Regions from separate parts of the Homo sapiens genome. Here all the other regions are reported to be linked to region 4. The links are microRNA targets in miRTarBase. Many come from high-throughput screens and were not tested one by one. Region 4 holds a microRNA gene; each other region holds the end of a gene's coding sequence.

Region 1 (5,074 bases), not on the chromosome of region 4:
ACTAGACATAAAGTAATTCATACTGAAGAGAAACCCTACAAATGTGAAGAATGTGGCAAGGCTTTTAACCATTTCTCAGCCCTTAGGAAACATAAGATAATTCATACTGGAAAGAAACCCTACAAATGTGAAGAATGTGGCAAAGCTTTTAGCCAGTCCTCAACTCTTAGAAAACATGAGATAATTCATACTGGAGAGAAACCCTACAAATGTGAAGAATGTGGTAAAGCTTTTAAGTGGTCCTCAAAACTTACTGTACATAAGGTAATTCATACTGCAGAGAAACCCTGCAAATGTGAAGAATGTGGCAAAGCTTTTAAGCATTTCTCAGCCCTTAGAAAACATAAGATAATTCATACTGGAAAGAAACCCTATAAATGTGAAGAATGTGGCAAAGCTTTTAACAATTCCTCAACCCTTAGAAAACATGAGATAATTCATACTGGAGAGAAATCCTACAAATGTGAAGAATGTGGTAAAGCTTTTCAGTGGTCCTCAAAACTTACTTTACATAAGGTAATTCATATGGAGAGAAACCCTGCAAATGTGAAGAATGTGGCAAAGCTTTTAAACATTTCTCAGCCCTTAGAAAACATGAGATAATTCATACTGGAAAGAAACCCTACAAATGTGAAGAATGTGGCAAAGCTTTTAACAATTCCTCAACCCTTAGGAAACATAAGATAATTTATACTGGGAAGAAACCATACAAATGTGAAGAATGTGGCAAAGCTTTTAAGCAGTCCTCACACCTTACTAGACATAAAGCAGTTCATACTGGGGAGAAGCCCTACAAATGTGGAGAATGTGGAAAAGCTTTTAACAATTCCTCAACCCTTAAGAAACATAAGCTAATTCATACTAGGGAGAAATCGTACAAATGTGAAGAATGTGGCAAAGCTTTTAGCAATTTCTCAGCCCTTAGGAAACATAAGATAATTCATACTGGGGAGAAACCATACAAATGTGAAGAATGTGGTAAAGCTTTTAAGTGGTCTCAAAACTTATGGAACATAAGGTAATTCATACTGTAGAGAAACCCTACAAATGTGAAGAATGTGGCAAAGCTTTTAAGCATTTCTCAGCCCTTAGAAAACATGAGATAATTATACTGGAAAGAAACCCTACAAATGTGAAGAATGTGGCAAAGCTTTTAACAATTCCTCAACCCTTATGAAACATAAGATAATTCATACTGGGGAGAAACCGTACAAATGTGAAGAATGTGGCAAAGGTTTTAACAATTTCTCGACCCTTATGAAACATAAGATAATTCATACTGGGGAGAAACCGTACAAATGTGAAGAATGTGGCAAAGCTTTTAAGCAATCCTCACACCTTACTAAACATAAATCAATTCATACTGGAGAGAAACCCTACAAATGTGAAGAACGTGGCAAAGCTTTTAGCCATTTCTCACGCCTTACTAAACATAGGATAATTCATACTGGAAAGAAACCCTACAAATGTGAAGAGTGTGGTAAAGCATTTAGTCCTCAAACCTTACTAAACATAAGATAATTCATTCTGGAGAGAAACCCTACAAATGTGAAGAATGTGGCAAAGCCTTTAACCAGTCCTCACACCTTACTCAACATAAAACAATTCATACTGGAGGGAAAACCTACAAATGTGAAGAATGTGGCAAAGCTTTTAACCATCTTTCAGCCCTTACTAAACATAAGATAATTCATACTGGGGAGAAGCCCTAAAAATGTGAAGAATGTGTCAAAGCTTTCAACCATTTTACAAACCTTAATACACATAAGATAATTTATACTAGAGACAGACCCTCCATATGTGAAGAATGTGGCAAAGCTTTTAACCAGTCCTCAAGCCTTAATAGGCAGAAAACAATTCATGCTGGAGAGAAACCCCACAAATGTAAAGAATGTGGCAAAGCCTTTAACCAGTCCTCACACCTTAAATACACATAAAATAATTGATACTGGAGGAAAACCCTACAAATATAATAAAGGTGACAAAGCTTTTAACCATTGCTCAGCTGTTACTCAAAATGAGAGAATTCCTAAAGAAGATAAACTCCACAAATGTGAATAATATGGCAAAGCTTTTAACTGGTCCTCAAATCTTACTGAATGTAAGATAATTCATACTGAAGATAAACCCTTCAAATGTGAGGAATGTGGCAAAGCTTTTAATCAGTCCTCAAATCTTACTGAACATAAGATAATTCATAGTAGAGACAAACACTGCAAATATGAAGAATGGGCAAAGCTTTTAACCAGTCCTCAAACTTTACTCAACATAAAATAATTTATCTTGGAGAGGAACACTACAAATTTAAAGAATTTGGCAAAACTTTTAACTGCTTCTCAAAACTTACTGAACATAAGATAATTCATACTGGAGAGATACTTTACAAATGTGAAGAATGTGGCAAAGCTTCTAACGGGTTCTCAGATCTTACTGAATATAAGATAAATTAGAGAGAAACCCGCCTCATGTGAAGAGTGTGGCAAAACTTTTAACTGGTCCTCAAACCTTACTGAACATAAGATAATTCATACTGAAGAGAAACCCTACAAATATGAAAACTGTGGCAAAGCTTTTAACTGGTTTTCAGACCTTACTCAACAGAAAATAGTTGATACTGAAGACAAACTCTAGAAATGTGAAGAATGTGGCAATGCTTTTAATCAGTTAAACTTTATTAGACATAAGAAAATTCGTACTGGAGAAAAACCCTACAAATGTGAAGAAAGTGGCAATGCTTTTAGCCAGTCCTCAACTCTTGCTAAACAACATAATTCAATGGGAGAGAAACCCTACAAATGTGAATAATGCCATAAGCATTCTTCAATTTTTTTTTTTTTTTTTTTGAAACAGAGTTTCGCCCTAGTTGCCCAGGCTCTGGAGTGCAGTGGCACAATCTCGGCTCACTGCAACCTCCGCCTCCTGGGTTTTCAAGCGATTCTCCTGCCTCAGCCTCCCGAGTAGCAGGGACTATAGGCATGTGCCACCACGCCCACCTAATTTTGTATTTTTAGTAGAGACGGGGTTTCTCCATGTTGGTCAAGCTGGTCTCGAACTCCCGACCTCTGGTGATCTGCCCGCCTCGGCCTCCCAAAGTGCTGGGATTAAAGGCGTGAGCCACCGTGCCCAGCCTAATTCTTCAATTCTTAATAAACAATTTATACTGAAGAGAAACCCTACAAACGTGAAGAATGTTGCAAAGCTTTTAACGTCCTCAAACCTTACTGAACATAAGATAATTCATAATGGAAACTAGCCCTACAAATATGAAGAATGTGGCAAACACTGTAACCATTTCTCACATCTTACCACACATTAAGATAATTCATACTGAAGAGAAACCCGACAAATGTGAAGAATGTAACAAAGTCTTTAACTGGTCTTCAACTCATACTAAATATAAGAGAATTCATACAGAAGATAAATTTTATAAATATGAAGAATGTGACAAAAGCTTTAAAAACATTTCAACCCTTATTACACATAAGATAATTTATGTTGTAGAGAAATTCTACAAATGTGAAGAATGTGGCAAAGTTTTTTTTTTTTTTTTGAAATGGAGTCTCACTCTGTCGCCCAAATTGGAGTGCAATGGTGCAATCTCAGTTCATTGCAACCTCCGCCTCCTGGGTTCAAGCGATTCTCTGGCCTCAACCTCCCAAGCAGCTGGGATTGCAGGCGCCTGCCACCACGCCCAGCTAATTTTTGTATTTTTAGTAGAGACGGGGTTTCACCATTTTGACCAGGCTGGTTTTGAACTCCTGACCTCAAGTGATCCACCCGCCTTGGCCTCCCAAAGTGCCCCAAAGTGCTGGGATTACAAGCATGAGCCATTGAGCCCGGTCGAATGTGGCAAAGTTTTTAATAAGTTATCAAATCATACTGGAGAGAAGCTCTACAAACCTAAAAGACATGACAGTGCTCTTGAGAACACCTTAAACTTTTCTAAACATAAAAGAAATCATAGTGTCAAGAAGCCCTAGATGTGAGTCATGTCACAAAGCCTTTAAATGGTTGTCACACTTGAGTATAAGCTAATTTATCCTAGAGAAAACTATGAAGAATGTGGCAAAATATTTAACCAATACTCACACCTTATCGCATAGGAAAGCATTTATACTTGAAAAAAAATGTACACCTATGAAGAATGTGGAAAAGCCATTAATATCTGCTCACATCTTAACATCACAGAGTTTATACTTAAAACAAATATTAAAAATGCAATTACTGTGAGAATATCTTTTAGAAAATATAAACCTTAGAATGGTGAAGAGTATTTCTTTTGATGACAAACATTACAAATATAAAGACGGTTGTAGTACTATATTTGTATCACAGATCTTATTGTGCATATTTTGTGCTAGAGAAAAACCCTAAAGTTGCTCAAACTTTGTTCAATATCAGGGAATGTATAATAGAGAAAAAAACCTGCAAATGTAATAAATTTGGAAAAAAGTTTATAAACTACAGCTTAGAAAACAGAGTAAGTTTTTTTTGTAGATGCAGTAAATATGAAAAATATTCAATCCAAAATTAACTCTGTAAATGTCAGAGAATTCACAGTAGAAATGATAAGGCACTGGCACTTCAGACTACACTAAATCAGAGTGTTGAGTAAAAAAAATAATTTCAATCTAAAATTTAGATAAGTTATTTGCATATAACTTAAAAAAGAGGAGGTGATTTTTTGGAGAATTATAATTACATTTGAAGTATACTTTTTGTATACTTCAAATATCAAAAAAATTAACATCACAATATTGAAAAAAATTACAGACTCTGAAAAGCAAATAAGGATGTAATTCAACTCTCAAGTTACTTCATGCTCTTCATTCCTACTTTATTTACATGTGAAAGCATGCGATCAATTGTTGCTGCATCAGAGATATGAAAGATTCTTTTTTATTAGATGGGCATTATTTATGACCTTTTTCATAAAAGAGAAAGGATATTAAAATATAAAATGCATGATAAAAATCTAAATGGAGAGGCTTTTTGTGGTTAACTTAAAATATTGAGTGATGTATGAGGTAGGTGTTCTGAGGAATATATTTTTGTGCATTATAGTGAGAAAAAC
Region 2 (5,074 bases), not on the chromosome of region 4:
GAAGCAGAATACCATGTAGTGCTACCATTTATTTGAAAGTCATTTTGACAACACTGTGCATACTTAGAGTTTTGGGTTAAAGATAATTGTGTATAGAAAACTATAGAAAACATTGCTTTGAAAGTGAAGCCAGTATCAATGTTATCCTAATCTCTTTGCCAAAAAAAAAGAAAACTATCTCTTAATTACACTACAATCAAATCGAGTCTTCAACTCTTATATGCTCATTCAGAATTTTAAAATCTCTCTCACGGGAGGAAATGTAAAAGGAAAGTTTTCAAGACCTTTTTGTACCTTAATATCCTTTTCAACTTCTAATGTAAAACGTATTTGTCCTGATACAATGCTGTGAAATAAAGACCACATCAGGAATGTAATGAAGTTTAAAAGTAGCTCCTTTTTTGCACTGAGAACAATTTTATTGATTCAAATTAGAAACTTCTAACTGGGGGCAGGAGAAAAAGGAGGAAGAAGAGAGAAGCAAGCAATCTGTGACCTAGCGCTGATTATTGGCTGACCTCTAATAAAGGAAGAAGATTCGGATTTCTGGTGCCAAAACGAAAGTAATAAAGTGGAAAATGAATTTTTGCAATCCCCACACATCACTGAATTTATCTATTGTCTTCTAGGCAAAGTAATCCTACAAAAGGAAGTTCTATTTCAAGGATTTTCACTCCTTTTCCATCTCTGAACTGAAAAGAAACAAGGGGCAGTTTGCAGCTTCAAAATATTTAAATAACCTATAACTCATATCAGTGTTCCAATTAAAAATTACCTAATCTGTTCTTTGCTCCTTGCAAGTTTCATTGAAGCAGTGCCCTTAACAGGCAAAGAAGGTACGTGGTAAAATTCAGCTCCCGGTAGAGTGTCCATCAACCAGCTCTGGCGGGATGTGCTGTCAGGAATGGAGCGCCCCCTGGAGGCCAGTCATCCAGCCAGTCTGTTCCCATCGATTAGAGCAGAGGCTCTCAAGTATGGTCCCTGGACCAACAGCATCAACACCACCTGAGAACTGTTAAGAAATCCAAGTTCTGGGGCCCCACCATAGGCCAACTGAAACAGAAACCTCTGTGGTGGGGCCCAGCAAACTACAGGCCTTGCAGGTGATGCTGATGCCTGCTAATTTTGAGAACCACTGTATTAGAACACCTCACTCCCCAAAGATGTCAGAATCAAGGTGTCATTGTGTTAAGAAATTATACAGGAATGAACAGAGCTGAAATGTCTTTCCTACATAGAGAAAGAACCAAGAGTTGATGTTTGTATCAAGTAAACACATTGAGTTACAATTTAGAAAATGTTGATACCAATGTATGTTTTAAATACATTAAAACAGCTTTTAGCAACCCTTTAATTATTCCCAATATATAGTTTGAATGAATTACTGTGTCCCTTGATGAAAAGGATAAAAAAGGAATGTAAGTGACTCTACCACAAATACAGGAAAAGTTTGGATAACCTCAGTACCTACCACTACCAACAACAAGACCAAAGAGTCTACCCCCACTGTTTATGATCCCTCCCTCTCTTCTCAGGACTGCCATCTGACTCAAACCAGTTCATGGCTATCTGACTACAAAACGAGGCTGAACTTGATCACAATCAAGGTGAAAATGAAAATAACAATCAAGAAAAACACTTCCCTCATTACTCATGATTTTTTTTAATTTAACATATATAGTACATGTAAACAACTGGCATAAAATTCATAAAAATACAATACTCCTATGCAATATCACTTTATTCCTGATACATACTTTCATTTTCTCATTAATATCACTGGCCTATTTTAACACTATATTTTTTTTGCCAAGCATTTTTAGAGGCTTATCTTTTTAAAGAAATACAGCCCCAACTTTGTTTTCGAAAATGTTGTAGCAATAGCTATTTTGATCGCTTCTTTGCCCATCCTTACTTTCCTCATACTAAAGCAAAAATATTTGTAAATGCTAACAATATGCAAAACACTGAGCTTTAATACTGTTTTGTACGCCTATGGAACCTGCTACCAATCTGCATTGCCATCAAAGGTGTGGATGCTCCACAGTGCTTGGGCTGCGAGCTGTGGCCACGGCTGCATAGCAGGGACCTTCAGGCCTCTGCTCCAAACTGGCTCCCCTAATATATAGCCATATTTTGCTGGGGGTTACATTCATAAACACTGCTACAAAAGGATCCTTCTGGAAAAAGCTAATTTATATTACTTTTAATGGTTCCCAGCAAATGAAGCAGTTATAATAGTATTTTTAATGCTTTTTTCCTATACAGAATTTCTACTTATTACATGTGAACTTCTTTGGAAGGAAATTACTGGGGGTGAGAAAAATATAAAATAAATGTAAAAGTATAATTTTTAAAAATTGTAACTGCTGGATGTACACAATCAGCCACACTCAGGTGAGCAACAATCACAGATAAGCAGCGCGCACCTCCCTCTCCCTGCTCATGTCAACTCCCATCCTCAGCCTCAAGTGTCCACCGCCCATTTTCCTGGACTGTTGTGCATCATCGCTCAAATGTTGCTTTTAATCCACAAATCAAGGGCTGCTTCCCTATTTTCTAAAACTAGCAAAAGCCTAAGAAATAAAAACAGTCAACCAGCAAATGAGAAACAGTGGCCACAAATCTGAAGAACGCTGCCAGAGTCCCTCTCCTGGGCTGCCTCCAGGGAAGGAGCATCCCTGGGAGCTGCGGCTCTAGGCGCTGGCACAAGACTGGGGGGCGGTGCTTCTCTGAGGGCACACTCCTCAGCCTTTGCAGCTGACTTATGTCAGCAAGCTGCTGCTTCCCCGGGACCAGGCCTGCCCTTGGGCTCTGGTAAGAAGGTAGAAAGGGAACAGCGGCTTCCAGGAGTGGGCACCAGAAACCATGCCTGAGGACTAAGGTCTGAAGGACAATCCACAATGAGGTTAATCTGCCTGTGGTTAAGAAAGAGAAGCTGTATAATTAAATGTGTAGTCTGTCAGCCATAGTCACGCTTTGCTTAGAATTTAAAACCCTAAAACCTTTTCTCAGAGCTATGAGGTTTCATCGTTTTGAAGAATCTCATTTCACACAAATTAACTTCTAAGAAACAAAAATTCATACAAGGAATTCAAAGAAGGTGTAGAAATTTTTCAAAATAAAAATAAATAGGAAGAAAAAAACTAAAGAGGAGGACGAAATATACTTATTCCTTATACTGAAATGATGGTTTTTAGAACCAAAATTATAACATAAGGCTTAAGGCTTTGTCTTATTAAAGACAGGCAATCTTAAAAGTAAAATATAAAAACTCCATTTATCATTATTCTTTACATTTTTGACAGCAAAATTAGTCATGTTTTATTGTATCTTAATAGTAAAAGAAAAATTACCATGTACTACAGTCTACTGTTCCACTATAAATGATGTCTAATCAAATATACATTAGTTTCTAGATGCACTATATTTGGGGTTGTTCAAAATAGTTTTTCTTAAAACTATAATTAAACATGAAAAAACTTTAAAGTGGTTTAAAGGTATTAAAATATAAACATTTGAATAATGCTAAAAATGAGAAAAATACAGTTACCATTAATTTTTTTTAAAACCAAGAATAAGTACTTGATAAGCAACTAAATGAGTAAACAGTACTTATTTGACAGAAAATATGGGGAAGAGGAGAAGAGAGAGAGCAAGAGAGAGAGAGAAAGAGACACGATAATGCCATATGGCTGGAAGTTAAGGGAATTTCCTAACCACAAGGTCCAAGAGTTTGGATTAATAATGGGCAGGAAAAGCTTCATTAACAAGAGAACAGAGAACAAAAAGCGCACAAGGAAGTAAAACAAACAGATAGTTCTATATAGCAAACACTCCATGTCTGCCCCATCTACTGTAACTCAAGTTGATGACAGGGGCTGACATGACCGAAGAACTTACAATCACTGAAATGTCCAAAAGACAAGAGCAAGAGGCAGAAAAAAGAAGCAAGGGGCATTAATAGTTCTTACACTATAAAATCAGCCCCTACATTGTCAGAATTGTCCTGTATTTTCATGTCATCCTTGTCACAACCCACTGTGTTTTCTTTATACAGGTAGCTTTGCTCACTTTAGCACAAATATTAAAGTCAAGTACAAGCATATACTCATTTGCATAGCAAATTTTAAAGGGTGCATTGAAATAGTAACCAATTGATAAAGGTGTAAGTCATTTTTATAATTAGAATGACATTCAAATTGACCAAATAAAACGTTTTCTATTTGAAAACAGTTACCTATAAAAGTTTTTGGGATATGAACAACACATGACTTAGCAAAACATTAAAACCATTACAGATGTAGTTCTCCGTAGGCAGCAGGTCATGTAGCAGTCATTCTTTTACAACTTCTAGGACTTTGTAAACACTGTTCTGGAATACAGTGGTGAAGTGAGGTTTGGAATCCTTCACCAAGAGGTTACATAAGGGAGTTTTCCCAGCATTGGCAGGATCTTCTACATCCCAAATTTCAGGCATACTGCAACCAGGCCTAGAAAAATGAATGTACATGTTAAAAATCAATATGCATTATATAACTGCAGAGAAAGCAGAGCACTTCTTACATTCCTGACCTCAATTCCTTTTTTCCCCTTAAATTACTTTAGTTTTTAAACAATCCTGTTACATAGCTATTTATGTTTTTATAAGCTGCCATGACTCACCTTAGGACAAGGTCAATGCAGCAAAGGTGACTATAAGGAAAGAAACAGACCTGTAGATACATATATCCAGGTGTTGCGGAAAGAGACACCTCAGTTAAACTCTGCCTCAGCTACTTATCAAGAATGTGGTTCTGGGCAGGTAGCTTCCCTTGGTCTTAGTTTTCACATTTGTAAAATGGGGAAATAAACAACCATGACATAGGTTTGTTGTGAGGATTATGAGAGACCAGGTATCTAGCACCATTCACACAGAAAAACGTATGACATTGATTTAAAAAATTATAATGAACAAATATGCTTAGTTCACAGGGAAGCTGCATTAATTGTATAGATGCTCCTCAACTTACAATGGGGTATGTTCCAATAAACCCATCATAAGTTGAAAATGCATTTAATACACCTAATCTAC
Region 3 (5,074 bases), not on the chromosome of region 4:
CGGCACCGTTTCCAGGAGGCCTGGCGGGGTGTGCGTCCAGCCGTTGGGCGCTTTCTTTTTGGACCTCGGGGCCATCCACACCGTCCCCTCCCCCTCCCGCCTCCCTCCCCGCCTCCCCCGCGCGCCCTCCCCGCGGAGGTCCCTCCCGTCCGTCCTCCTGCTCTCTCCTCCGCGGGCCGCATCGCCCGGGCCGGCGCCGCGCGCGGGGGAAGCTGGCGGGCTGAGGCGCCCCGCTCTTCTCCTCTGCCCCGGGCCCGCGAGGCCACGCGTCGCCGCTCGAGAGATGATGCAGGACGTGTCCAGCTCGCCAGTCTCGCCGGCCGACGACAGCCTGAGCAACAGCGAGGAAGAGCCAGACCGGCAGCAGCCGCCGAGCGGCAAGCGCGGGGGACGCAAGCGGCGCAGCAGCAGGCGCAGCGCGGGCGGCGGCGCGGGGCCCGGCGGAGCCGCGGGTGGGGGCGTCGGAGGCGGCGACGAGCCGGGCAGCCCGGCCCAGGGCAAGCGCGGCAAGAAGTCTGCGGGCTGTGGCGGCGGCGGCGGCGCGGGCGGCGGCGGCGGCAGCAGCAGCGGCGGCGGGAGTCCGCAGTCTTACGAGGAGCTGCAGACGCAGCGGGTCATGGCCAACGTGCGGGAGCGCCAGCGCACCCAGTCGCTGAACGAGGCGTTCGCCGCGCTGCGGAAGATCATCCCCACGCTGCCCTCGGACAAGCTGAGCAAGATTCAGACCCTCAAGCTGGCGGCCAGGTACATCGACTTCCTCTACCAGGTCCTCCAGAGCGACGAGCTGGACTCCAAGATGGCAAGCTGCAGCTATGTGGCTCACGAGCGGCTCAGCTACGCCTTCTCGGTCTGGAGGATGGAGGGGGCCTGGTCCATGTCCGCGTCCCACTAGCAGGCGGAGCCCCCCACCCCCTCAGCAGGGCCGGAGACCTAGGTAAGGACCGCGCCGCTGCACCCCTTCGCCTCTCAGGTGGCAGACGGCAGGCCGGCCAGGCCGCGGTTCCCAGTCCACCTCGATTTCCTCCCCTCTCCCACTCTCCGCTCAGCCTTCCCACCTCACTTGGCACCGTTGCCTCGCGCCCCCAGCGTCCCCGGAAGGCCGGTCTGACCCCGCTAGGGAGAGCAGTCTCCAGGGGGATGCGCCCTGGTGAGGGGTGTGTGTGCGCGTGAGTGTGCGTGACAGGAGGGGAGACAGAGACACCCAGGGTCACGGGTAAGGACCGTTTTGTCAGCGCCACCCTTTCTTTCGGCTTTCAATTTTTGTTCTCCTTAAAACAAATGTTTTAAAACAAATTCCACCTCCTCCTCCTTTCCACCCACCCACTTCCTCTTGCCCTTGGGCTGAAATCCTTCCAGGTTGTTCAGCTTAATTTCTCAGTGGTGGTGATAAGAACAGTGCTCACTAGTCTTAGAAAACAGCCGCAGAGACCTAAACAATAACCGACTCCCCCCCCCCCCTCTGGGTTTTTGCAGATGTCATTGTTTCCAGAGAAGGAGAAAATGGACAGTCTAGAGACTCTGGAGCTGGATAACTAAAAATAAAAATATATGCCAAAGATTTTCTTGGAAATTAGAAGAGCAAAATCCAAATTCAAAGAAACAGGGCGTGGGGCGCACTTTTAAAAGAGAAAGCGAGACAGGCCCGTGGACAGTGATTCCCAGACGGGCAGCGGCACCATCCTCACACCTCTGCATTCTGATAGAAGTCTGAACAGTTGTTTGTGTTTTTTTTTTTTTTTTTTTTGACGAAGAATGTTTTTATTTTTATTTTTTTCATGCATGCATTCTCAAGAGGTCGTGCCAATCAGCCACTGAAAGGAAAGGCATCACTATGGACTTTCTCTATTTTAAAATGGTAACAATCAGAGGAACTATAAGAACACCTTTAGAAATAAAAATACTGGGATCAAACTGGCCTGCAAAACCATAGTCAGTTAATTCTTTTTTTCATCCTTCCTCTGAGGGGAAAAACAAAAAAAAACTTAAAATACAAAAAACAACATTCTATTTATTTATTGAGGACCCATGGTAAAATGCAAATAGATCCGGTGTCTAAATGCATTCATATTTTTATGATTGTTTTGTAAATATCTTTGTATATTTTTCTGCAATAAATAAATATAAAAAATTTAGAGAACCTTAGAGTTTGGTCTATATTTTTAAAACTAAAGATTAAGTTGGTGGTAAATACCTGCTTGTTTAATTCTAGAGGCACCCAGGAGGGAGGGGGCACTAATATAAACAAAGCAATGAAAAACTCAAATAAAGCAGCTACTGACAGGCACAAGCATGTTATTTTAAAAGACAGCTTTATTATTATTCCAGTTTGGTATTCAGAGGGCTTAGTAGCATCTCTTCATCTCTTACTGTCTCCAAACAGCAAAAACTTAACAAATTTGCTATTCACCTCCTTTTTATTTTGAGGTGATAGTTGTTAAAACAGTTAAATGCAAATAAGGAGTATAAAACCTGCACTATTCTCTTATTATGTACTTTTTGTCATGCTCTTCACTCTTTGTGAAGATTCCTAAATAACAGGTTCTTTTCAGTGAAAACATATATAGTGTTATGAAAATTATCTATACACATATAGAAATGACCAGAAATGCATAGAAAATAAAGTGTAAATCAGCAGAAAAGAGAAAATTCCATTTGTAATTTGCTTAACTCTTCTCTCATGAATGAATATGACGTTTAGTGTCATGTTTGCTAAAAAGAAAAGTTAATATATCGCTATATTGACGCTATTTGGGAAGCATCATTCTTTTTTTATGTGTAAAGAATATAAGGCTGTGGAATAATATACAAAAATGAAGATCCTGAACTTTCAGTATCCTTGGTAACTGGATATAATCACAGTTGGAATAATCACAGTTTTAAATACTACAGCTATGCAGTTACTAGTCAGTTCATTAGCGTTATATTTTATCCAGAATTACACAGAATTTTTCCCTGGTGAGATCATACATACACACACACACAATCTGAAGTTAAGTAAAACAATAATGGGCAAACGGGGGTGTTTGATTTTTTATTTCATTCTGATTATTTGTGGGCCAGGAACATACTGGCTTTTATAATTAACATTATTAGAAATAGTGATTTTGTATCAGTTCTTAGCTTTTACATCCGATTTACTGCATCCAAGTGTAACTGGGGAAGCTTTCAAACTGGAAAATCATTTTGGTGCCTGTTTCAAACAATGACTAATAAGTGTATGTATCCAAACAGATCGTTTTTGCTTAGCTCAGGTCAAAGTTATTTTATTGCCTGAAGGTTTTTGTTTTCTTCTTCACACAGCACCATAGAATGCTGACATAAGAATATTATGAATTTATTGTTAATATTTCAGACTATATTTTACAATAAGGAGTCTGCAGCATTGACTTGTATTAAAAGGTTAGTGAAAGCTTGGAGAAGTATTATTATTTTTTTATTTTGATAGTCCTTTAGCAAATAACAGAAAGGGAAGGCGATTATGTGTTGGTGTATTTGTTGGGGGTGTGTGTGTGTTGTGTGTAAGGCAGGTTAGAAATGTAAGGAGGGTGCCCTAGGAGGATGAGGGAAAGCATTAGGTTGGTAATTCTTTTTTGTATGTATCATCCAACCACCTCCATTTTCTAAATTATTCATGGGGAGTCTCCTTGTTCACTAGCTTGGTCTGACTATTTGATATTTCAGATTTCTTAAGGTACACCAGGATGGAGCTGGCCATGACTGCTGAGAAGGTAATTGTTATCTTAACTCTGGATATAAGAACTAGATGTGTCAAAGAAAGGTAGCTCTCCATTTGCCTTTCTTTTATTTCTTTCTTTTTTTAATGTGTTTTGCTTTTTCTACTTTTTTCATAAGGGGAAACACTTTGGAGAAAAGCAAATGCCATATTTATAGTAATATTAAATACTAATCTGAAGGTAATGTTTCCCCCCAGATTTTCAGAGAAATAAATGAATGAAAAAGGTGGTAATTTTATTTTGAATGAGGCGACTGCACAATGAAAAATATTAACTACTGGAATGCAGTTTCCAGCTTGCAGATTCTAATCCCTACCCCTGTATACACAAGACATAAATCGTGAAATTCTTTTTTAGAATAGAAATGAAGCCACCTGTTTCTTTTCCTCCACCATTATATCTTCTTTTGATTTTATGTTATTTCATTTTATTTTTGCTACCTACCCTTATTTAAAGAACACATAGAATGAATTACCTCTTGTTTTCGGAAATAAGAAGCTAAGGCTTTCCAATTAATGTGTTGGTTCACTTGGGATCTTTTTCCTTCAGAATGCATTTGCTAGGGGAAAGTATTGTATTAAATTGTCTTGGGTAAATTGTAGAAAATTTAATGTTTCCTTTACTGTGCTATTGATTACTTTTATTTATAAGTTGGTCAGATTGATAGCCTTTAGTTATAAGAAAGCAGTAATTTTTTTACCCATATGCACATTTCCCCTTTTGTTCACAGAAGCACATGTCCAGATGATAATTCACGCACAGTTACAGGTTCCCCTCCCCAAAGTGGAACGTATTATTAATAAAATAATGTTAAGGAGCAGAAACTTGCACGATGTGTGTAAATTTTTTCCCACACTCAACAACGGCACAAGCTTCTTGACCCTTCGGTCTTAAGGTTCATATTCATAATGGAGCTTTTTAAGGGACATTTGGCCTCTTGCAAAAAAGTAGAGCATTTTGCACATTCCATGGTTTGGCAAAGTCAGAACTGGTTATTTTCTCTAGACCGGTATCAAGTTCTTCTCAGGCATATGATTTCACTTGAAGTCCTGCCCAGGAATCCTTCAAAGTGAGCGTTTGTCCCGCTCTCATGATGTCAGGCGGTTTTCCCTGCATCTGTAATTTGAAGAAAAATAAACAAACCTGCGGGGAACAAACGCCACGGAAACCCAAACAGAACTCCGTGGGGAGCGAGGGTCTCACCTGCGGCAGGCGCGGGAGAGGGGCACGGGCACGGTCTCCCCTGCGTGGGTGGCGGGCCCGGCTCGCGCGGTGGGGAGAATGACGATGTCCGTATCTCCTTCGGTTTGCGTGGAAGGCCCCCAGCCCCGCGTCTGGCC
Region 4 (5,074 bases):
ATAATAATAAAAAAAAAGAAAGAATGTAAAATATGATAATTAAAAAATTGCAATTACATGTTGAAATGATAATATTCGATAATATTTGAGTTAAGTAAATTTAATGTTACTTATTTTTTAGCATGGCTATGGAAAACTTAAAATTATGCATGTGGCTCGCATGATATTTTTGTTGAACAATGCTGTTTGCTGAAGCAGGGCTGGCAGCCCTTGCCAGAGGTTTGAATCTCCATTGTCTTGGTGGCTGCAGATGGATGGATGTGGGGGTACCAGCCTGGTGTGTTGGGAAGATTTTTCTTTGTGAAGGGGAACTTGCCCTTTACTGTTGGGGATAGTTTCTTCTCAGCCTATCCAGGGACACACATACCAGCATTTTGGGGTTGTGAAACTTTTGTGTGGGGAACTTCCCTTTTTTTTTTCCACATGAGCCAATAAGATAAAACTGACCTAATGGCATTCTCGGTGCAACTCTGCCTTCAGTTTAAGGACAGAAGAGGGCTCATGTTTCATAGAGTATTAAAGGAGCAAGCTTAATATTTTGCATTTTGTGGACTGTAATTGCTAACTGCTGCTACATGATTCAGTCAGCTAAGAATAATTTACTAATTATATATTGCCTCACTTGGTTCTTTTTCCAGATGCTAAACAAGGTGAGATAATTAGAGGAGGAAAAAGGGTGAGTTTGGGAATTGGAGACCAGAAGGATGGATTTAGAAGATCTTGGAGTTAACGGACTTAGAATATAGTCAGCAAAGAGTTCACTTAAAATTAGTGCAGGTTGCCAGGCGTGGTGGCTCACGCCTGTAATCCCAGCACATTGGGAGGCCAAGGCGGGCGGATCACGAGGTCGGGAGTTCAAGACTAACCTGGCCAATATAGTGAAACCCCGTCTCTACTAAAAATACAAAAATTAGGCAGGCATGGTGGTGCATGCCTGTACTCCCAGCTACTCGGTAGGCTGAGACAGGAGAATCGCTTGAACCTGGGAGGTGGAGGTTGTGGTGAGCCGAGATTGCGCCACTGCACTCCAGCTTGGGCAACAGAGTGAGACTTTATATCAAAAAAAAAAAAAAAAGAAATTAGTGCAGGTTGACTGTGTGTGTGTGTGTGTGTGTGTAGTTTTCTGAATTCATTTTTCAAGTATTGAATATTCACAATGATGCTAGACTAAGTGCTAGAGATTTGGTGGTGAACGAAACAGATTGAAACCTGCCTTCATGGGGGGCGTATATAGGTTCGTCTGACTAGTCTAGATAAGTGAATTTGTGTAGTAATTGTTTTTTTGTAACTGGCTTAGTTTACTTAGCTTGATGTCATCAAGATTTATTCATGTTGGAGTATGTGTCAGAATTTCCTTCCTTTTAAAGGCTGAATAATATATCCATTGTATGTATATATCACTTTTTGTTTATCCATTGATTCTTCCATAGACATTAGGATTGCTTCCACCTTTTGGCTCATGTGAATAATGATGCTGTGAACAGGGGTGTACAAATATCTCTTAAAGACCCCTCTTAAAACTTTTTGCGATATATACCCATAAGTAACAGTTGCTATAGAATCATATGGTAATTCTGTTTTTAATTTTTTGAGGAATACTATACTGACAAATTTGAATCCTTATTTAAACCCAGGATTATGGAATACTGCTGCTTGATTTCAGCTGTCATTTTGTTGTCTACATTGTATTTTATTGAATTGGCGTTATTCCCAAATATTGGAAAATGTGGAGGTTTCTAATTTTTGCTACTGTAAATAGCACTAATAAATACCTTGAGCATGAAACCTTTTCCATTATGGATTAATTTTATAGGATAGTTGTACAAAAATGGAATTTTACTAATTATGAGGGTGTGACTTTTTATGATTCTAGTTATATATTGCCAATTTATGTCTATTTTTAAGTTTCATTACACCCTTACTTCCATTGGATATAGTCATTAAAATAGAGAAAAAAAACTTCAATAACTAAAGGCACCTTATTGCTATTTAATTTACATTCCTTTATTATTATTTTTTAAATTATTATTTTTTGAGGTGGAGTTTTACTCGTCACCCAGGCTGGAGTGTAATGGCGCGATCTTGGCTTACTGCAACCTCCGCCTCCCAGGTTCAAGAGATTCTCCTGCCTCAGCCTCCCAAGTAGCTGGGATTACAGGCGCCTGCCACTACGCCCTGCTAATTTTTGTATTTTTAGTAGAGATGGGGTTTCACCATGTTGGCCAGGCTGGTCTCAAACTCCTGACCTCAGGTGGTCCACCCACCTCGGCCTCCCAAAGTGCTGAGATTACAGACGTGAGGCACTGCGCCTGGCACATTCCTTTAATTAACTGTGAATTTAATACTTTTTAAATACTTCTGAGTAAATCTCCCTTGTGTGAGAATTGTCCATGCATGACCTTTGCCCATTTGTCTATTAGGTAGGCAAAATCTTGAGAGAGCACTGCTTGAGTCTGTGCATTTTTAGCTTGGTAGATGGTTCTGCTTTTTTGAGGTCAGCTGAACTTCAGGGTTTTTTTTGACTTACACTGTTTGTACCAAAAGGATATTACATATTCAGGCTTTCATTTTTTTAAGATGGAGTTTCGGTCATGTTGCCCAGGCTGGAGAGCAATGGTGCGAACTTGGCTCACTGCAACCTCCGCCTCCCAGGTTCAAGTGATTCTCCTGCTTCATCCTCCCAAGTAGCTGGGATTATGGGCATGCGCCACTATGCGCGGCTAATTTTTGTATTTTTAGTAGAGACAGGATTGATCAGGCTGGATGGTCTCGAACTCCTGATCTCCGGTAATCTACCCGCCTGGGCCTCCCAAAGTGCTGGGATTATAGGCGTGAGCCACCGTGCCCGGCCCAGGCATTTTGAAATACTTCAGAATGTGTTTCAGGCTGACATCACTGAAACTCAGAAAAATACTTATTACTCCTGTAGTTACAACATGGGAAAGGCATTGCTAAGAAAGCATCACCATAAATAAACCCGTGGGATTCAGAAGGTGGGGAGTTGGGTGATGTGTTTTCTACTAACCATGTGTTTTAAAAAAAAGGGTGACTAGAAGTTCCTGTTTATCTTTGAATTTCAATAAATTTAGGGCTTGTTTTCCAACCACTCTGGTAGAATTTAGAAGAACCTAACTTATTTATTTTTATCTTTTTGACAGTCTTGCTCTGTCACCAGGCTGGAGTGCAGTGGCGCGATCTTGGCTCACTGCAATCTCTGCCTCCCAGATTCAAGCTATTTTCCTGCCTCAGCCTCCTGAGTAGTTGGGATTACAGGCATGCACCACCATGTCCAGCTATTTTTTTTTTTTTTTTTGTATTTTTAGTAGAGTCAGGGTTTCACCATGTTGGTCAGGCTGGTGTCAAACTCCTGAGCTCGTTATCCGCCTGCCTTGGCCTCCCAAAGTGTTGGGATTACAGGTGTGAGCCACCGTGCCTGGCCAGTCCTAACTTATTTTGTAAGTATACTAGGTATTGAAAAAAGGATGGTAGGACAAACTGCTGGAAACCTTACCCACCAAAGATAATTTATACTGTTTACTTATAGGCTTACTGTCTTTTGTTGAAAAATTGCGATGAGAAAGGAATCGGCATTGGCATCTATTAGGTTGGTGCAAAAGTAATTGCGGTTTTTGCCATTACTTTCAGTAGCAAAAATCTCAATTACTTTTGCACCAACTTAATACTTTCAGGCTTGTTGAAGCCTAAGTAGAAAATTGTTGCTTAATCTCTTTTATTCTGATTAACTCCTACTTTAAATTTTTTCTTTCAGAATCTTTTTATCAAGTGAATCTTTTAAAAAGATGTGAAGAGTTACTTCTGACTTTATGATTGATAGATTATGAGCCCTCCTTAATCCCCAATTTCTTAATTCAAACAAGCTTACTGTGAAAATTTTCTTTTTTCTTTCTTTTTTTTTTTGAGATGGAGTCTTGCTCTGTTGCCCAGGCTGTAGTACAGTGGCACGATCTTGGCTCACTGCAACCTCCATCTCCTGAGTTCAAGTGATTCTTCAGTCTCAGCCTCCCCAGTAGCTGGGAATACAGGCGCATACCACCATGCCCAGCTAATTTTTGTATTTTTAGTAGAGACGGGGTTTCACCATGTTGGTCAGGCTGGTCTCGAACCCCTGACCTCAGGTGATCCGCCTGCCTCGGCCTCCCTGAGTGCTGAGATTATAAGCATGAGCCACCGCGCCCGGCCACCGTGAAAATTTTCTACAAATGCTTGTTTCGAGGAATCTTTTTTGATATTTTGCCAGCAAAGTCATAGGAGCAAAATTTTTTTAAATGAAAATAGAAAACAACATAGTTAAATATATCACGTAGGAGGAAAAGTACCAGTACCAAAATTAACTTTAGCATTTCTTAGTGTTTTACAGTTAACAGGGCATTCCAAGGGAATTAAAATTCAGTTGATTTTATTGGACTTTAATTTCAGAGGAACTCTGAGATGAGAAATTTAACTAGCACGTTTATCCGTTTAGGCCTTAAGCAGATGCAGGTTTCATGACATGCCAGAGGTAAATTTAGGGGTACTTGACTGTAGTGAGTAATTTCCCAGCTATGGGAAAATGTAAATATTATGTAGATGGTATAAAGAAACAATATTACGTTTGTCCATTTAAGGTCTGTTTCTGTTTGTTCAGACAGGCTTGTGGATTGCTTTTCTTGCCAGTGTTCCTTTAGGTGGAAGGTACAGCCCTTTCAGATATTTCAGAATTTTATTTTCTTTTATTTTTTTGAGATGGAGTCTCACTCTGTCACCCAGGCTGGAGTGCAGTGGCACGATCTCGGCTCACTGCAGCTTCTGCTTCCCAGGTTCAAGAAATTCTCATGCCTCAGCTTCCCGAGTAGCTGGGATTGCCAGCACCCGCCACCATGCCTGGCTAATTTTTATTTTTATTTTTTTAGTAGAGAGAGAGTTTCACCGTGTTGGCCAGACTGGCCTCAAACTTCTGGCCTCAACCGATCTGCCCGCCTCTGCCTCCCAAAGTGTTGGGATTACAGGGGTGAGCCACCATGTCCGGCCATATTTCTGTTTTAGAATTGCTTTCTTGCTTTTCCTCTGACCAGAT
Region 5 (5,074 bases), not on the chromosome of region 4:
GAGACTGGTGTTAGGTTGTGGCACAGGAGCCCAGGCAGGCCAAGGCCAGCGAAGAGGTCTGTGTGGCCCGAGGCAGGCTAGGAGGATGCTGAGGCTGGGATGGCTGAGCCCTGCTGTGCTGAGTGCCCTGCCTGAGGGCCTCACCCGCTCCGCCTGGATAGTCCAACAGTTGTGCTGCAGGGAACTGAGGCCCAGAGGCTGAGCCCTTGCCTGCTGGGCCCTGCCCTGCTGCCCACTCGAGCGCCCTCCCACTCCCTGCTGGCCCTCAGGCCCCACGGCAGCCCACTGGCCCTGACCTGCGCTCCCTCCCTCCCCAGTGGCACATCATCCTGGGGGGGGCCGTGTTGCTCACAGCCCTGCGTCCTGCTGCGCCAGGGCCCGCGCCACCGCCACAGGAGGCCTGAGTGAGGACCGAGACCCCTGCCCCTCCCTGCGCCCCACTGGCCCTCCCTGACCTGTAGTGACGTAGGGGACCTGGGCGCCCTCCCCTTACGCGACCTCCCCTCATGCCGGTCCCCACCGTGGGTGGGTGATGCCCACACTCACCTCCTTCCCCTCTCTCTCTCTTTCTGTGTCTGTCTGTCCATCCTTCCGTCCGGCTGCAGTGGATGTACATCATTCCCGTCGTCCTGTTCCTCATGATGTCAGGAGCGCCAGACACCGGGGGCCAGGGTGGGGGTGGGGGTGGGGGTGGTGGTGGGGGTAGTGGCCGGTGAGGGCCCAGGCTGGTCAGCGTCCCGTCTTGCACACCCAGGGGCCTCCCTTTCTGCTGGAGTCCCCTGTGTCCTCAGCCATCCCAAGAAGGGTTTGCTGGTCCCTCCTTTCCCCCCGTCCCACGAGGCCACCTGGGCCAGCCCCTTGTCCTCTGCCTTCTGCTGGCAGAGGAGCAGCTGGACTGGGGCCTTTGGCACAGCAGCCGGTGTCTCCTGCGCCCGCCTCCCCCATGGCCCCATGCAGCCCCAGGGGCTTCCCCCCTGCCCATGGAGTAGAGCCCGAGATCCTGGCCACTATGCCAGTTCTGACCTCGCATCCCCCTACCCCGAGCCCATGCAGTCTGGGAACATGCCGCCTTCTCTCCAGCCTCTGTGCCTTTGTTCCAGGTGGTCTCACCCTCCTGTCCCTGGCTGGGCTAGGTGGTCCTGTCCAGGCTCCTGCAGCGCCCCCCTCACTTTGACACTGGACTAGGATGCAGCCTCCCTTCTGTGTCCCCTTGAGGGTACCCTGGGTCCCCTCATCAGGGGCAGAGGCATGAAAGAGTCGGGGCTGGATGGCCGGGGGCTTCTGGGCCCGACGCCTAGTGCAGCCCCTGGGGTCGTGGTTTGACATTTGTCTGCCTGGTGCAAACAAGGAATCCTTGCCTTTAAGGTGACAGGCCCTCCACAGGCTTCCAGACTTGAAGGAAAAGGTTTAAGAAAGAAAACAAAACCAACAGTTAGTGGAGTCAAAGCCCAGACACTGTAAATAGAACCCCCTCCACCACCCCCCGCCGCCCAGCATCCTACCTGGACTGCGGTGCTACGAGGGCCTGCGGGCCTTTGCTGTGTGCCACCCTCCCTGTAAGTCTATTTAAAAACATCGACGATACATTGAAATGTGTGAACGTTTTGAAAAGCTACAGCTTCCAGCAGCCAAAAGCAACTGTTGTTTTGGCAAGACGGTCCTGATGTACAAGCTTGATTGAAATTCACTGCTCACTTGATACGTTATTCAGAAACCCAAGGAATGGCTGTCCCCATCCTCATGTGGCTGTGTGGAGCTCAGCTGTGTTGTGTGGCAGTTTATTAAACTGTCCCCCAGATCGACACGCAGCTAGCCTCCTGCATTGTATGGTTATAAATAGCACCCTAGTGAGTGCTGTCGTCCAGTCTCTCTTGGGTGTGGTTTGAATGATCTCGGGATGCATGACTAAAATGGAATTACGATGGCAGATCGGAAACGCGTTTATAAACAAGTGATGGTTTGTGAGTCGACTGTCAAGACCAGGAGGTGGTGCACCGTGGGAGGTTGCCTTCCCTCCCATCACTTCTTTTTGTTTTTGAGTCAGGGTCTTGCTCTGTTACCCAAGCTGGAGTGCAGTGGCGGTACCTTGACTCACTGCGACCTCCACCTCTCAGGCTCAGCGATTCTCCCACCTCAGCCTCCTGAGTAGCTGGAATTGTAGGCGTGCACCACCACGCGCAGCTAGTTTTTGTATTTTTTGTAGAGACGGGGTTTCACCATATTGCCCAGGCTGGTCGTGAACTGCTGGACTCGAGTGATCCACCTGCCTCGGCTTCCCAAAGTGCTGGGATTACAGGCGTGAGCCACCGCGCCTGGCCTATTTTTGGTAACTTTAATAAAGAAGATAGTCTTAGCATTGCTAACTTCTGTTTCTTTCTCCACCTGCAGGAGATAGCTTATGCTTTTTCTGTCTTCATTCCATGTGAATCCTGCTTCATTCTTTTCCTAGAGGATTCCAGAAATATTTACTAATGCTTTTTTTTTTTTTTTTTTTTTTTTTTTGAGGCAGAGTCTCGCTCTGTCATCCAGGCTGGAGTACAATGGCACGATCTCAGCTCACTGCAACCTCCGCTTCCTGAGTTTAAGCGATTCTCCTGCATCAGCCTCCCAAATAGCGGGGATTGCAGGCGCCCGCCAACACACCTGGCTAATTTTTGTATTGTTAGTAGAGACAGGGTTTCACCATGTTGGCCAGGCTAGTCTTGAACTCCTGACCTCAGGTGATCTACCTGCCTCAGCTTCCCAAAGTGCTGGGATTACAGGCATGAGCCACTGCGCCAGGCCTACTGATGCTTTTTGGGAAGTGTTCCCAACTTGGAGTCCTGGTCCCTGTGTCTGATCTGCAGATGTCTTCTACCCCGGCACTGGGGGAACATCTTATTTTTCCTGGGTTAAACATTGGGATCTTTATAAACCTGATTATGTCCTTTCCCTCTAAGTCTCGGTTGCTTTCAGGCTGGCAGGGTTACTCTGTTGGGTATTCCAGGAAATGCCTGAGCTCCTTCAGGCTCCCCTAGCGTTCTGTTCTTATTAAACTTTTCTTCCCCGTCTGGCCGGTCCTTGGGGAACCCACTCACTATTTTATTTTATTGACCGGGTTATCCAGGGATGAAGTATGAAACTCAAAAGATAGAGTAGGTTGGCCAGGCATAGTGATTCATGCTTGTAGTCCCAGCTGTTTGGGAGGCTGAGACAGGAGGATCGCTTGAGCCCCAGAGTTCGATGCTTCCTGAGCTGTGATTGAATCACTTTACTCCAGCCTGGGTGACAGAGTGAGACCCTGTCTCCAGAATAGACAAAAGATGCAGTGGAATCCACGTCCAGAAACTGTATGCTCACTCTGGGCTCCAGCACCCACTTCCCCTCCCTGGAGGCAGCCTGAGTTTTCTGTCCCCTGGTATGCTGCAGATACTCTCCACAGAAACAAGCAGATGCACATGTCAACAGTTTTGCAAGTGTTGCTCTTTTCCCCCACCTTCTTTTGACATAGCTGGGGCAGTTTCCATCTCTGGTATAAGGTGCCATCTTATTCCATCTCTGGTGTAAGAGTGTGTTGCTGGATTTGAGTAGTTCTAAGCAGCACTGCAGGAGTCCCCCTGTTCTGCTGCATCATTTTGCACACATATGTGTCTGTGGAAGACATGGCCCGGTGGGGCCCCACCTTGCTGGGGGAGAGGGATGTGTGTGTGATGGTGGTGCATGCTTCCCCCTTGCTACTCCAGGTGTCTGCCCCATCCCTTCACCCTGGAGGTTCCAGACAGCCCCTCTTCACCAGCGATTCCCCAACTCATCTCCAGCTCAGATCCCACCCCTGATCTCCAGACTCATGGCCCCAGCTGCCTCCTGGGCTCCTTCCCCAGGATGTGCCTCAGGGGCCACTAAAGGAGCCAGTGCCTCCCACCTGCCCGGATCGGGTGCTCCTCCAGGGATCTTTGTTCCAGTGAGTGGTGCCATCACCTGCCCAACCTCATGGACCAGAGCACTGCCCTGTCCCAATCACGTTCTCCTATGCACCACCATACCTACCCCTAAAGTTCTTCCTGGCCTCATCCCGTCACCTCTGTCTCCATGGCCTTGGTCCCAGCTCAAGCCTCGTCCTCTGCCACCTGGACCATCGGCCCAGCCTCCTCTTTGGCCTCCCAGCCCCCAACATCCCCCCCTCAGTCCATCCCCCTAATGGAGAGCTTCCTGACACTAGAGCTGACCTCACTACTCCCCTGCTCACAGCCCTCCGCGTGGCCTCTCACCTCCCCCAGGATAGAGTCCCAACCCATCCTTCTGTGTCTCCTCCTCTCTGTGTCCACTGTCCTGACCCTAACTCAATCCTCATTCTCTGCCTCCTGGACCCTCATCCTAGCCTCGTGACTTCTGGTCTAAGATGTGAGAGCACCTGGCAAGGTAAATGCTCCAGGAGGGGTTGCTCCCTCCCATTTCCTGCCACCAGAAAATGTTATCGGCTGCGTGGCATTGCGAAAGCCTTCCTCTTCCCAGCCTAGGGTTTCATGTGGGCATTTAGGTGCTCCCAGTACATAGTTGCATGGCAAACAATCCTAAAATATACAAGACTACATTTAGTATTTTGTAAAATTCTTTACTAACCCCAAATTGTCTACTGGAAACTATAGGCTCCTTTTTTTTTGGTGGGTGGGGGGCAGGTGTGTTTGTGGGATGGAGTTTCACTTGTCACCCAGGCTGGAGTGCAGTGGCTCAATTTTGGCTCAATGCAACCTCCACCTCCCAGGTTCAAGCAATTCTCTTGCCTCAGCCTCCTGAGTAGCTGGGATTACAACCGTGTGCCACCACACCCAGCCAATTTTTGTATTTTTAGTAGAGACCGGGTTTCACCATGTTGGCCAGGCTGGTCTTGAACTCCTGACCTCAAGCGATCCACCTTAGTCTCCTAAAGTGCTGGGATTACATGTGTGAGCCACCGCCCCTGGCCTCTGTAGGCTTCTTTAACCCATCAGAGAGACTCCCTGGTAAGGATTAGGGGCTAATTACTGGTGCCTCTTCAGCTGTCAGTCCATCCTCCTTTATTTGTACCCACCTTCCAGTCAGCAAGGCACAACAATGT
Region 6 (5,069 bases), not on the chromosome of region 4:
AGGGGAGGAGCGTAATTGGTGGGAAGAAAGGAAACAGTGGGAGGAATGAGAGGCCTCCAGTCCCCAACACCCTACCTTCTCACAAGCTCCTGTATTTGCTAAGTCCAGAGCGCAAACAGACCAAGTGCACAGTTGTAAGGTTGCAGCGGTATCCCCAAGGCTGGGTTGCCCCATGCTAAGGCACGCTGTCTGTTTTCCAGGGTATCTTCATCAAAGATTCCAACTCACTGGCTTACTACAACATGGCCAATGGCGCAGTCATCCACCTGGCCCTCAAGGAGAGAGGCGGGAGGAAGAAGTAGACAAGAGGAACCTGCTGTCAAGTCCCTGCCATTTTGCCTCTCCTGTCTCCCACCCCCTGCCCCAGACCCAGGAGCCCCCCTGAGGCTTTGCCTTGCCTGCATATTTGTTTCGCTCTTACTCAGTTTGGGAATTCAAATTGTCCTGCAGAGGTTCATTCCCCTGACCCTTTCCCCACATTGGTAAGAGTAGCTGGGTTTTCTAAGCCACTCTCTGGAATCTCTTTGTGTTAGGGTCTCGATTTGAGGACATTCATTTCTTCAGCAGCCCATTAGCAACTGAGAGCCCAGGGATGTCCTACAGGATAGTTTCATAGTGACAGGTGGCACTTGGCTAATAGAATATGGCTGATATTGTCATTAATCATTTTGTACCTTGACATGGGTTGTCTAATAAAACTCGGACCCTTCTTGTGAAATCAGTTAAATAAGACTTGTCTCGGTCACCTGTGCCCTGTCCAGACTCGAGGCAGTGGTAACACTGCACAGTGCTATGTGGCTTCTCTTTGAGGATTTTTGGGTTTTGTAACTAAATTCTTGCTGCCCTCATACTTTTTATGTATTAGAATCATATTCGTATTGCCCTTTTAAAACATTGGGATCCTCCAAAGGCCTGCCCCATGTATTTAACAGTAATACAGGAAGCATGGCAGGCACCATGCAAACCAAGGATGGATGGTGCAGTCCCTGTGTCAGTGGGCGGTGGTTTCCTGCTGGCCTGGAATCACTCATCACCTGATTGATTGGCTCTGTGGTCCTGGGCAGGTGCCTCATAGGTGTGTGGATATGATGACGTTTCTTTAAAATGTATGTATTTAACAAATACTTAATTGTATTAAGGTCATGTACCAAGGATTTGATAAAGTTTAAATAATTTACTCTCTACTTTTATCCATTTTATCCATTTTAACTCATGTAATCCTCATGTGAGTATTCCTGTTTAACACTTGAGTAAACTGAGGCACAGAGAACATAAGTTGCATGCCATAGTCACACACTGTGAAAGTGAAAAGAGAATGTGTGCAAAACACGTCACAGTCCTGGTTTCTGAGTAAAGGCAGGCTGTTATCTTTAGAATCAAGCTATCACAGGGAGATAGGCAATGCTGTGGGTGTTGGAGGAAGGTGAGAGCCTGTTGCTAACAATTTCCTGGTTTTAAAGCTAAGGCTGATTTTATTGGGAAGATCTCACATGTGTGTGGCCCCTGAGAGTTCCCAGTGCCTTTTATTTGCAGTCCTTCCATTTGGACCTCCTAGCTGCCCCATCAGGTCATCTCCAGGGCTCAGAGGGGTGAGACCATTTCCCAAGGTCACAGAACCAGCTCTCTAGTCACCACCCTGCCTCTCCCTCTCACCCAGAGTCAGTACCAGTTTTATGGCTTTATTACAAACTGCTGGGTCCCTCCCATTTTCAACTTGATTGATGGGATGTCATCCCTTATCCTGTCTGACATTTGCCTCTGGCCTGGTTGCTAGAAGTTTGCCCCAGGGGCAAGAGTTGAAATTTGGCTTCCTGAGGTGGGCTTTGTGGTTTGCGTCCCTAAAGTGAGCCCACTACTGGTTGCTTGTCCATGGCCAACACCAGAAATCCCCTGAGCACTACCTGGGTCTCATTCCAAGAAGGAAGAGGGTCAGGAGACCTGGGGAGTCTCATATTCCAAGTTCTTCTTTCTTTCTGGGAGCAGTGGGCAGTTCATGGTGTTAGGGCACTCACCCCCACAGACTGGCAAACCCTGCAGGACTTCCGTGGCTGAGGCTGTGACCGGAGGCCAGGAATGCCGTTGGGTGGATTGTGAGTGAATGGGCCCTTTGAGCTGCCCTCTAGAGAGCAAATCCAGTTTCCTGGAGCTCCTGAATGAATATCTGTACTGGCTCGCTCAGATGCAGAAGCTCCATTGACCATGAGGCCTTGTGAACATCAGTGGCCACAGGCCCAGTGTGCTGCTTGGCACTGCACTAGTTTAGGACCTGCAGCATGTAGGTAGCGTCCTAGTGTTTATAATACAAAGCTGCTCTGCACAGCTTTTCTGATTCTTCTTGCAATCTCCTGAGGATTATCTGCCCCATTTTTAAAACGAGGTGGAATACCCAAGGTCATGTAGCCAGTGAGTGCTCTGGAAAGCCAAAGCAGCTCATCCCTTCCTGGGGACCACACTGCTCTGCTCCACCAGACCACACTATGAAATAGGAATAAGTGCTCCTGTTGCAGGACTGCTGGGAAAACAGGTGGTGTGGGACTTAAGTCACCATAATTTTGAAGACTTGCATGCAGAGGGCTCCAGGAATTGTAGACATTAAGGAATTTCACTTTCAGTTCTACCCACTACTTAAGTACTTGTCATGTACTCTTAGAGGAGGCCAGTAATGATCAGAACCATTTTACTTTAAAATTAATAATATTGTATTAGAGAATATATTAAATGGTTATATTGGGTTATGTTAGGATATATACTTGAATGGAAATACATGTACTATTAGCAATCATATTTCATTTATCCCTGTAATTAGACAAGAAAGCATAATATAGCTCTACTCATGGGTACACATACCAGTGTATAAGATTTTTAGAAGTTTACTTTTTAAAAATAAAAGCAAAATGTAAGATCTTAAGAGTTATGATCATTAACTCTACCAGATATGGAGATTTGCTGTTAACTATTCTGTATTGTTACATTTTTTTAATTCTGCATTGTTGCCAGGTGTAGTGGCTCACACCTGTAATCCCAGCACTTTGGGAGGCCGAGGCGGGCGGATCACCTGAGGTCGCGAGTTCAAGACCAGCCTGACCAACATGGAGAAACCCTGTCTCTACTAAAAATACAAAATTAGCCGGGCATGGTGGCACATGCCTGTAATCCCAGCTACTTGGGAGGCTGAGGCAGGAGGATCGCTTGAACCCAGGAGGTGGAGGTTGTGGTGAGCTGAGATAGCACCATTGCACTCCAGCCTGGGCAACAAGATTGAAACTCTGTCTAAAAAAAAAAAAAAAGGCTGCATTGTTATATAAAAGAACACTGCCTGGTGAGTTCCCTGACACCATGCCCTGACACTGCTCCCAGCATGTAAGTGAACAATTCTAGGTACCCCTGGACACTACAGTCCATGAAGCAGGACAAGATAAACTCCTGCCAGGCACAGTGACACACCTGTAGTTCCAGCTGCTTGGGAGGTTGAGGTAAGAGGATTGCTTGAGCCAGGAAGTTCAAAGTCAGCTTAGACAACATAGTGAGAACTCATCTCTAAAAAAGTTTTTTTAAATTAAAATTAAAATAGATCATTACAGAGAATACTGTTATAACAGGTGGCAGGTGCCTGTAATCCCAGCTACTTGGGAGGCTGAGGCAGGAGAATCTCTTGAACCCGGGAGGTGGAGGTTGCAGTGAGCCAGGATCACACCACTGCACTCCAGCCTGGGCAACAGAGCAAGACTCCGTCTCAAAAAAAAAAAAAAAAAAAAAAAGGGCATCTGGACTTTTGCTCATGGCCAGTGCTCACAGGTTTCCTGAGCACATGCCAACTGCACATTCCAGGATCCAGGAGAGGGGCCTATGTGAGATCCTCAAGCCCAGCTGTTGGGAATGACCCCAGCAGGATGAGACTCTGGGATATCAACACATTCTATCTTCAAAAGAATGTCTCCAACAGCCAGTTCACCAGGATGTTCCACAGCATTGCCTAAGGCCTCTTAAATTCTTTATTCCAGTGAACCACGTGATTCTGCAGGGCTCCTTTCTGATCATTTATTCATTGGTTCACTGTTGCCCTTGCTTTCTCACTCCAATCTAACAACACAGCCTCCTTCTCCTTCAAGGGGAAAATCATCTGCTGCCATGCTTGTACACTATTCTCAGTCCTGCAGAAGGGGTCCCTCATTTTCAGCCCATACCACCTCCCCAACACCTACTCCAGCATTCTCCATACCTTACCTGGCTTTATTTTCTTATTCTCACTACCTGATAGATGTTCTGTGCTTGTTCATGTTGTCCCTCCTCCACTGGACTATAAACTCTATTGGGCCAGGACTTCATCTCTCTTATTCACTAGAGCAAGCTCGTCCAACCCATGGCCCAGGAGAGCTTTGAATGTGGCCCAACACAAATTTGTAAACTTTCTCTTTTTTTTTTTTAGACAGAGTCTTGCTCTTTCGCCCAGGCTGGAGTGCAGTGGCGCCATCTCGGCTCACTGCAAGCTCCACCTCCCGGGTTCACGCCATTCTCCTGCCTCAGCCTCCCGAGTAGCTGGGACTACAGGCTCCTGCCACCACGCCCGGCTAATTTTTTGTATTTTTAGTAGAGACGGGGTTTCACCGTGTTAGCCAGGATGGTCTCGATCTCCTGACCTCATGATCCGCCCTCCTCGGCCTCCCAAAGTGCTGGGATTATAGGCATGAGCCGCGCCCGGCCCCAAATTTGTAAACTTCCTTAAAACATTATGAGATTTTTTTTTGCAATGTTTTTTAACTCATCAGCTATATCGTTAGTGTATTTTATGTATGGCCTAAGACAATTCTTCTTCCGGTGTGGCCCAGGGAAGCCGAAAGGTTGGACACCCCTGCACTAATGTCTGGCTCATTATAGGTGTATTAAATAAAGAACTCTGGAGTTTGGCCAGGCATGGAGGCTCACGCCTGTAATCCCAACAATTTGGGAGGCCAAGGCGGGAAGATCACTTGAGCCCAGGAGTTCAAGACCATCCTAGGCCACATAGTAAGACCTAATCTCTACAAAAAAATACAAAAGTTAGCAATTTCACACAAGGACACCCAGTTGTT

Evidence for each region. The annotated mature microRNA hsa-miR-548c-3p reads CAAAAAUCUCAAUUACUUUUGC and lies in region 4 at 3,649-3,670, shown strand. An mRNA with a match to its seed (bases 2 to 7 or 8) in the 3' UTR can be bound and repressed. Matches are read on the target gene's strand: a 7mer-m8 pairs with bases 2 to 8, a 7mer-A1 pairs with bases 2 to 7 and ends in A, and an 8mer does both.
Region 1: the mRNA of ZNF99 is a reported target of hsa-miR-548c-3p. Seed matches in the 3' UTR shown: 7mer-A1 at 3,004-3,010, 7mer-A1 at 3,707-3,713 and 7mer-m8 at 4,679-4,685.
Region 2: the mRNA of DPY19L1 is a reported target of hsa-miR-548c-3p. Seed matches in the 3' UTR shown: 7mer-A1 at 3,530-3,536, 7mer-A1 at 3,123-3,129, 7mer-A1 at 2,355-2,361 and 7mer-A1 at 1,710-1,716.
Region 3: miRTarBase lists TWIST1 as a target of hsa-miR-548c-3p. Seed matches in the 3' UTR shown: 7mer-A1 at 1,761-1,767 and 7mer-A1 at 2,067-2,073.
Region 5: the mRNA of EMC10 is a reported target of hsa-miR-548c-3p. Seed matches in the 3' UTR shown: 7mer-A1 at 4,821-4,827.
Region 6: the mRNA of SF3A1 is a reported target of hsa-miR-548c-3p. Seed matches in the 3' UTR shown: 7mer-m8 at 811-817, 7mer-A1 at 2,364-2,370 and 8mer at 2,858-2,865.

The regions. Positions count from the first base shown.
Region 1 is chr19:22,752,843-22,757,916 of GRCh38, reverse strand. It overlaps ZNF99 (zinc finger protein 99), which reads left to right. Exons shown (of 4, transcript NM_001080409.3): 4 at 1-5,074. The coding sequence ends at 603. Among named protein-coding and RNA genes, the nearest start is that of ZNF99, 29 kb to the left of the region's middle.
Region 2 is chr7:34,927,237-34,932,310 of GRCh38, forward strand. It overlaps DPY19L1 (dpy-19 like C-mannosyltransferase 1), which reads right to left. Exons shown (of 22, transcript NM_001366673.1): 22 at 1,645-4,493. The coding sequence ends at 4,337. Among named protein-coding and RNA genes, the nearest start is that of MIR548N, 11 kb to the right of the region's middle.
Region 3 is chr7:19,112,531-19,117,604 of GRCh38, reverse strand. It overlaps TWIST1 (twist family bHLH transcription factor 1), which reads left to right. Exons shown (of 2, transcript NM_000474.4): 1 at 1-934; 2 at 1,474-2,137. The coding sequence starts at 284. The coding sequence ends at 892. It overlaps LOC124901597 (a long non-coding RNA gene), which reads right to left. Exons shown (of 3, transcript XR_007060241.1): 2 at 4,938-5,074; 3 at 4,360-4,850. Among named protein-coding and RNA genes, the nearest start is that of TWIST1, 2.6 kb to the left of the region's middle. RefSeq lists enhancers at 1-679, 703-962.
Region 4 is chr12:64,618,921-64,623,994 of GRCh38, forward strand. MIR548C (microRNA 548c) reads left to right here and starts at 3,589; the gene lies at 3,589-3,685. The region is part of intron 1 of RASSF3 (Ras association domain family member 3); the gene reads left to right. MIR548Z (microRNA 548z) reads right to left here and starts at 3,685; the gene lies at 3,589-3,685. RefSeq lists an enhancer at 2,511-2,670.
Region 5 is chr19:50,481,544-50,486,617 of GRCh38, forward strand. It overlaps EMC10 (ER membrane protein complex subunit 10), which reads left to right. Exons shown (of 7, transcript NM_206538.4): 7 at 606-5,074. The coding sequence ends at 716. Among named protein-coding and RNA genes, the nearest start is that of MYREM, 4.8 kb to the right of the region's middle.
Region 6 is chr22:30,329,827-30,334,895 of GRCh38, reverse strand. It overlaps SF3A1 (splicing factor 3a subunit 1), which reads left to right. Exons shown (of 16, transcript NM_005877.6): 16 at 201-2,908. The coding sequence ends at 302. Among named protein-coding and RNA genes, the nearest start is that of TBC1D10A, 5.4 kb to the right of the region's middle.